Linked DNA regions of Homo sapiens. The protein of the gene in region 1 purifies or fractionates together with the protein of each later gene. This does not show direct contact. Each region holds a gene or a part of one and is shown on either strand. Other genes may lie near its edges. The genes, in order: SPMIP6 and PSMF1.

The links.
Region 2: the proteins of SPMIP6 (region 1) and PSMF1 purify together in Homo sapiens (affinity purification with mass spectrometry; 2 studies listed by BioGRID and IntAct, with this or other methods). This does not show direct contact.

What each region holds. Positions count from the first base shown.
Region 1 is NC_000009.12:34,380,625-34,384,440, forward strand, and holds part of SPMIP6 (sperm microtubule inner protein 6), read right to left. Parts: intron 2,246-3,816; coding exon 2,130-2,245; intron 1,502-2,129; exon of another isoform or gene 1,096-1,501; intron 1,086-1,095; exon of another isoform or gene 821-1,085; coding exon 745-820; intron 667-744; exon of another isoform or gene 508-666; coding exon 278-507; coding exon of another isoform or gene 273-277; intron 1-272. UniProt on the Homo sapiens protein: May participate in intramanchette transport and midpiece formation of the sperm tail. May play a potential role in somatic cell proliferation.
Region 2 is NC_000020.11:1,132,016-1,135,831, forward strand, and holds part of PSMF1 (proteasome inhibitor PI31 subunit), read left to right. Parts: intron 1-3,105; coding exon 3,106-3,291; intron 3,292-3,816. UniProt on the Homo sapiens protein: Plays an important role in control of proteasome function. Inhibits the hydrolysis of protein and peptide substrates by the 20S proteasome. Also inhibits the activation of the proteasome by the proteasome regulatory proteins PA700 and PA28.

The DNA.
Region 1 (3,816 bases):
ATATAGAGAGGCCAGGTTGACCTTGAGCCCAGTTTGAGAGGGACAGGGGTCGGGGACTTGGAGTAACCTTCGTGCTGGTTCTCCCGCCTCAGTTGTTAGTTCAGGCCTTGGAGCCCGAGGGCGGGACACGGCAGGGCCTCGAGAGCGTGCAGCGCGGGGCTAGAGCAGGCTGGGGGCCTGCACGGAAGCTGGCCGGGCTGGAAGGGGGCGGGGTTCTGGGGCGGGGCTTGTGTGGGGTGGAGCCCGGCTGAGGCGGGCGGAGCCCTGCGAACCTTACAGTCGGTTGCTCCCGGCACCAAGGCCGCAGGCGGCGGTCGGTGCAGGGCGCCCCGCTGGCGTAGTAGTCCATCCCGCGCAGACAGTAGTGGCGGCCCGAGCAAGCACTTTCGTAACCATGGAAGGGCAGGCGGCCGGGCAGCGGGTCCACGCACCCGCATCGGGGCGTGATCCGCGGCAGCTGCTGGTTCCGCGACAGTGAGTTCAGCATGTTCACCATCACTTCGCGCTCTGCTCCCGCGGGTCCCCAGCGCAGGAGACCCAAAGACAGATGCACAGGGATGGGAAGAGGCCGAGTCACGGACAGAGTGAGGCGGAGACAAAAGCCAGGACGGATAGATTCAGGGTTCCACCCTCTCCAGGACCCTCGGCCTCCTCCCCGTCCTTCAGGTACCCATCCCGCCCTCCTCCCGGCCTTCCCCAACCCTCTCCACCCGTTCTTTCCAACGCCCCACTACCACTCTTTACCGTAGGCATTGAGCCGCTCCGGCCTAGGAGGGCATTCCAAGGGCATTCCTCGAACTGCTGTCTCCATCCTGGCCTCCTGGAAGCGGCACACATGCTACCTCAAGCTCTGACCTGGCAGAGCTGCTCCCTTTTAGGGGTCCTCCCAGAACACCCAGACCTATCGCCACGCCGCAACTTCTCCCGCCCTTCAGCAGCTCCCCACCTCTCCAGGGCTCTGTGTTGGCGGCTGTCACCGGGCAACGCTTTTACATCGCCAACAGGGGCGGGGTGGGGTAGGAAGGGCTGAAGGTGGATGGGGTTTGGCTCCTGGGCCTGTGACAACCCTGTCTCAGCGTTTGCCTTTGATTTTACCCCTCTTTGTCTAGCTGACTCTGTTTAGCTGTGTCTGGGTGTCTCTCTAATAGGGGGTTTTCAATATTGCTTGTCATTCCGGAGAACTTGTGAAAGATTCGATTCTTGAGGAAGTTCTAATTCAAAAGGGTTCCATCAACCCAGGGTCAGCCATCAGCCTGCAGTTAAGAGCCCCGGCTCTGGTTTTGGGTCCTCTCAGGTGCCCTTGAGTTTGCGGCCGTGGCTGGACCTTCTCCTATGTCCTTGGAAGACTCTCCTGTATCTGCACTGCTATTGAGTAGCCTTAGTCTTTCTCCTTCCGTCTGTGCTCACATCACAAAGGAGGAGAAGGTGGAGCAGGGAGATTCATTGTATCACTGACTCCTTGGCTAGCCCCAGTATCACAGAGGCCAGACTATATGGGGAGGGGCCAGCTGGCAAGCTTCGGAAAGGTAGTATATCAAGGAGTGCACACCAGTCATGTCCCTACAGAGCCCAGCCAGGGATTGGAGCCCAGGGCACCCAATCCCCAGAGATTGAGAGCCAGGGGCCCAGCACAGCCCTACTTTTGGGTTCCTTTTTCAACTAAAAAAATTCAAACCCGGCCAGGTGCAGTGGCTCATGCCGGTAATCCCAGCATTTTAGGAGGCCGAGGCAGGTGGATCACTTGAGGCCAGGAGTCCAAGACCAGCCTGGCCAACATGGCAAGATCCCCGTCTCTACTAACAATACAAAAATTAGCCAGATGTGATGGCGCATGCCTGTAATCCCAGCTGCTCGGGAGTGTGAGGTAGCAGAATTGCTTGAACCCAGGAGGCAGAGGTTGCAGTGAGCCAAGGTTGCGCCACTGCGCTCCAGCCTGGGTGATAGAGTGAGACTCTATCTAAAAAAAAAAAAAAATACAAACTCTAGTTTCACAGATGCGGAAGAGCTCTGGGGCATTTGTTGGGAAAGCAATGAGGACCTAATGGTGAAATATCAGTCACTGTAGTTTGGGAGGTGGTGGGGTATGCGTGTCCCAGTCCCCAGACGTCTGTGCTGGGTGCAACAGATACCTTAGGCAGCCGAGGAAGGTAGGTGGTATACTTGTTGCAGCAGCTGCTGTTGTAAGGTTCCATCCTCCATGTGTTGTACCAGTCACTGCCCAGGTAGTTTGGGCTGCATTTGTCTGCTGGATAATAGGGGTGGAGATGTCAAATAGTGTTACTTCTTACTCTACTCCAGGATCTGAGATCCCCTACATGTTTCTCTTCCGATTCCCAGCACAAAGCTGACCCTCACAGACTGTCCTCAAGCCAGAGACCCCAAGCCCAGCCGGGCCTACACTTGTCTTAAACACTGAGATGCAGCCCATGTCCCATCTAAGGCAACCTTCTGAGTTTAGTCTGGATCCACTGTGCCAGCCACTTTTCATCCTGCCACTACCCTTTTTGAATCAGCCAGCCTGGACAAGGAGCCTCTTCCCAATTCCTCCCTCTCTCTCATCTTCTACTCTAGGCTCTAAGGTTTGCCTATTCTGCCTCCTTCAAAATCACTCGAATCTGGCCAGGCAAGGTGGCTCATGCCTGTAATCCTAGCACTTTGGGAGGCCAGGGCAGGCAGATCACTTGAGGTCAGGAGTTCGAGACCAGCCTGGCCAACATGGCAAAATCCTGTCTCTACTAAAATACAAAAATTAGTTGGGCATGGTTGGTGTGCGCCTGTAAACCCAGCTACTCAGGGGGCTGAGGCATGAGAATAGCTCAAACCAGGGAGGCAGATGTTTCAGTGAGCCAAGGTCATGCCACTGCACTCCAGCCTGGGTGACAGATCAAGACTCAGTCTCAATAAATAGATAAATAACTTGAATCTACTTCCTCTTCCAGTGCCCCATGATCTCACTTCCATATCTTTGCAGCACCTTAACCAGAAGACAATATAATGTCTTGGTTAATAGATACCTATCTCTGCAGATAGACTGCTTGTGTTTAAATTTCAGTTTTACAATTATTATCTGTGTGACCCTGACTGAATTAATTAATTTTGATGTGTCTCAGTTTCTCCAACTTTAAAATGGGGATAATAGTACCATTTACTTCACAGGGTTGCTGTGAGGTTTAAGTGAGTTAGTATATGTAAGACATTTAGAATGATGCTTGGCACATAAAAAACTATTATGATTATTCTACTGTTATCCTTGCCTCACCTTTGAAATCCTATAATCCAGCCTTGACATAGCACCTGTGGTACTTTTCACAAATGAAAATTTGACCAAGACACCCTCCTACTTAAAACCCTATAGGGTTTGTCTGCCTTAGCCCCCAGTCACCTAAGCCTGTCCTACAAGGCCCTCCATGATCCAACAGTCTGAAAGAATACATATGCGACACGGTGTGGAGGAAGCCCTAGCGAAGAGCAGCTGTCTGAGGGGAGGGGTGCAGTGCTGGGATTTGGAGTTCGGGGATGGCAGTTTGCACATACTGAAACTGAGGTGTTTGGGGACATCCAGATCAAGATGACTATAAGCATATGAAGAAGAGTGGAATTCTGATGAGAGGACAAATCTGGAAATTAGGATTTGAAGCTGTCAGTAATTAAAGGCTTGTGTTAAATCAAATGGCCTTGGAGGAGGAGCAAGGGGAGAAGAGGGTGCAGGATAACACCCTGAGGAACCCCATGTTTCCACAGTGGATGCACAGGAAAGGGAGGCATCAGAGAAGCTGAGGAGGAAGTTGTTTCAAGAAGTAGAGTGTGGTCATAGCC
Region 2 (3,816 bases), on another chromosome or scaffold:
GTTATTCCTTCATTGAATTACTTTTGAAACTTTGTCAAAAATCAGTTGTCTGTACATCTGTGGATCTATCTCTGGATCCCTTGTTCTTTTCCATTGATCTCTATGTCTCTTCCTCTGTCAATATTACTCTATCAGTATTGATTATTGTAGGCCTTAATATTGAGTAGAATAATTCCTCCCACTTTTTCTTCGTCAAGGTAGTTGTAGCTATTCTAGGTTCTGTGCCTTTTCTTTTTTTTCTTTTTTCTTTCTTTTTTTTTTTCTTTGTTTGAGACAGAGTCTCACTGTGTCTCAAAAAGGCTCAGGCTGGAGTGCAGTGGTGTGATCTTGGCTCACTTCAACCTCTGCCTCCGGGGTTCAAGTGATTCTCCTGCCTCAACCTTCTGAGTAGCTGGGACTACAGATGCGTGCCACCATGCCTGGCTAATTTTTTGTATTTTTAGTAGAGACGGGGTTTTACCATGTTAGCCAGGATGGTCTCGATCTCCTGACCTCGTGACCCACCCATCTTAGCCTCCCAAAGTGCTGGGATTACAGACGTGAGCCACCGCACCTGGCCTCTGTGCCTTTTCATATAAACTTTAGAGTAAGCTTGTGTATATCTATGAAAAACCTTGCTAGGATTTTGATAGGAGTTGCATTAAACCTATAGATTAGTTTGGGGAGAATTGACATTCTTGCTATGAACATGATATATCTTATCTCTCCATTTATTAATATTTAGGTTTTATTTGATTTCCATCAGTATCATTTGTAATTTTCAACATATAGATCCTGTACATAGCTTGTTATTTGTTTAAAGCAGAAAGGGAGATGATTATGAATGGCATATTCTGTCCTTTGTTTTGGTTTTCAAATGTTCATTGTTAGTGTGTAGAAATGTAGTTGATTTTCCTGTGTTGAACTCTTCTATCCTGTCACCTTGCTGAATTCAAGGTGTTTAGGGTTTTTTTGTTTTTTTTTTTTTTTGGTAGATTCCTTGGGAATTTCAGGGTAGACTATCATGTCATTTGCAAATAGGGACAGTTTTATTCCTTACTTGCTAATATGAATGCCTTTTGTTTTTCTTGCCTTATTGCAGTGGTCAGGATGTCCAATATTATGTTAAATAAGAGTGATGAGAAAGAATATGCTTTCCTCGTTCCCAATCTTAGGAGCAAAGCATTCAGTCTTTCACAGTAAAGTATATTGTTAGGGGTAGGTTTTTTGTAAATGTTCTTTATCAGGTTAAAGAAGTTCCCCTTTATTCTTAGTTTGTTGAGAGTTTTTAATCTTGAATGGATTTATCATGTTGGATTTTGTCAAAAGCTTTTTTCTGTATCAATTGATATGATCATATGATTTTTCTTCCATAGCTTATTGATATGGTAGATTACGTTGATTGATTTGTGACTATTAACCAGTCTTGCATGCCTAGAACAAATCATACTTGGTCATGGCATATAGTTCTTTTTATACATTTTTAAATTCAATTTGCTCATATTTTGTTGAGGATTTTTTTTGTGTGTAAGTTCATAGGATATACTAGTCTATATATGTGTATATATATATATATTTTTTTTTTTTTTTTGGTGTAGTCTTTGCCTGGTTTTGATACCAGAGTAATACTGGTCTCATGAAATGGATTGGAACGTATTCCCTCCTCATATATTTTCTAGAAGTGACTGTAAAATTGGTGTTAATTCTTCTTTGAATGTTTGGTAGAATTCTTCCTGAAATCATCTGAGCCTGGAGATTTTTGGTTTTTGTTTTTTTATTTTATTTTTTTAGAATGTTAAGTGTAATTCAGTTTCTTTAATGGAACTATTCAGATTATCTATTTCATTTTGGCTGAGTTGTAGTTTATGGTTTTTAAGAATTGGTCTATTCTGAGTTGTTGGATTAAGTTGTTCTTAGTATTCTCTTATTATCCTTTCAGTGGCTACAGATCTATTGTAATATCTCCTGTTTCGTTCTTGTTATTGGTGACTGTGTCCTCTCTTTGTATTTGTCAGTCTCGCCAGGAGTTGGTCAGTTTTATTCTTTTTTTTTGAAGAATTGACTTTGTTTCATTTTCTCTCTTGTTTTTCTTTTTTATTGACTTCTGTTCTTACCTTTATTACTTCTGCTTGCTTTGAGTTAATTTGCTCTTCTTTTTCTAGGTTCTTTAGGTCAGAATTTTGGTTATTGATTTGAATTCCTTCCTCTATTTTGATGTAAGCATTTAGTGCTATGAGGTTTCTTCTCAGCAATCCTTTAGTTATATCCCACATATTTTCGTATGTTTTTATTTTCATTTTAATTCAGTGCTATATATTTCTTTTTTGTGACTTTGATCCAAGGATTTTCTAGAAGTATGTTGCTTAATTTTCATGTATTTAGAGAGTTAACTTTTTGTTTTGATTTCTGTTATGATTCCATATGGTTGGAGAACATACTTTATATGATTTCAGTTATTTTACATTTGTGAGCTTTGCTTTATGGGCCAGGATGTGGTTCATTTTAAAATACCAGTGTTTTAGGAAGCCTGGAGTCCTGCCCACTCTGTTACCTCAGCCTGCCTCCACACCTCAGCTGTGGCTCACGTCACTTGTCTCTCACAGGCATAGAAAAAGAGGCCCAGGCAGGATGGGACAGGTGGTAGGGGCAGCCTTCCGAGGACCCCTGAGTTAGTGACAGAACTGGACCTTGAACCCCCAGAGCTCTGCCTGCCTGGAACAGGAACCTGGTTCATCCTCCCCATGGAGCCTTTGCCTTCCATGACCCTTCCCATGACACGTGATGAACACACAATGAAGCTGAGGGAGGGGTGAGGCGGGTGAGGACAGAGGAGTAGCCAATCCAGGCCCTGTGCCCCTACACCCTCACCTCTTTCTAATGGGGTGGTAAACAAGGAGGGGCAACTCAGATGCCTAAGAAGCTTGGGCCCAAATCTCAGAGACAGCGTGGGGCTGTTGCCCCCCTCACCCAGGTCCAGCAGGCGGCCTGTTCCCCCACTTATAAACAGGCCAAGCGCAATGCCAGGAGCTATCAGGGCCGCCGCCGCCGCCGTCGTTGCAGCCAGAATACCACTTCCAGGGTTCCTAGCCAACTGCAAGCAGTTGACTCTTCATCTGCTTCCTGCAGGACCTACAAGAACAGTGAGGAGCTTCGGTCTCGTATTGTGTCTGGAATCATCACACCTATCCATGAGCAGTGGGAAAAGGCTAATGTAAGCAGTCCCCACCGGGAGTTCCCCCCTGCTACCGCCAGAGAGGTGGACCCACTCCGGATTCCTCCACACCACCCACACACCAGTCGGCAGCCTCCCTGGTGAGTACAGAGTGCCTAGCGGGAAGCCCATGCTTCTGTAGAGGGATTCCAGCCAGCTATCCCCATCCTGCCACTTGACCCCATCCCTGGCCCGTATGTGTTTTCAACAAAATGATCAGTGTCTTGGGGTGCATGGAGTTAGAAAGTGGAGACGTAAGTGGAGCAGTGAGTTCTTGAACTGCTACTAGTCACCCTAATTACCCAAAATCCTAAGCCTGCCTGATTTCTTTCTAGGGGCCACACAGAGCCCCTGAGTCTGTCCAAGGATCAGTGCCTCTGGGGCTTATGTGCAGTAGTCTAAGGTTGCTGCCCAGGTAATTCACAGCTAATTCATTCCAGAGCTTTTTGTCTAGACAGGGCCCTGGGCCAGTCTTTCTGAGAAAATGTAAACATGTAGAGGTACTAGCCCAGAGGAGATGCAGTCCCAGTGTCTTGCCCATTTCATTTCATTGTAGTCCCCCAATCTCACTATCAAGTTCAGAAGTTTTCCAAAATAGCATGGGATGTGAGTGAGTCACATTCCAA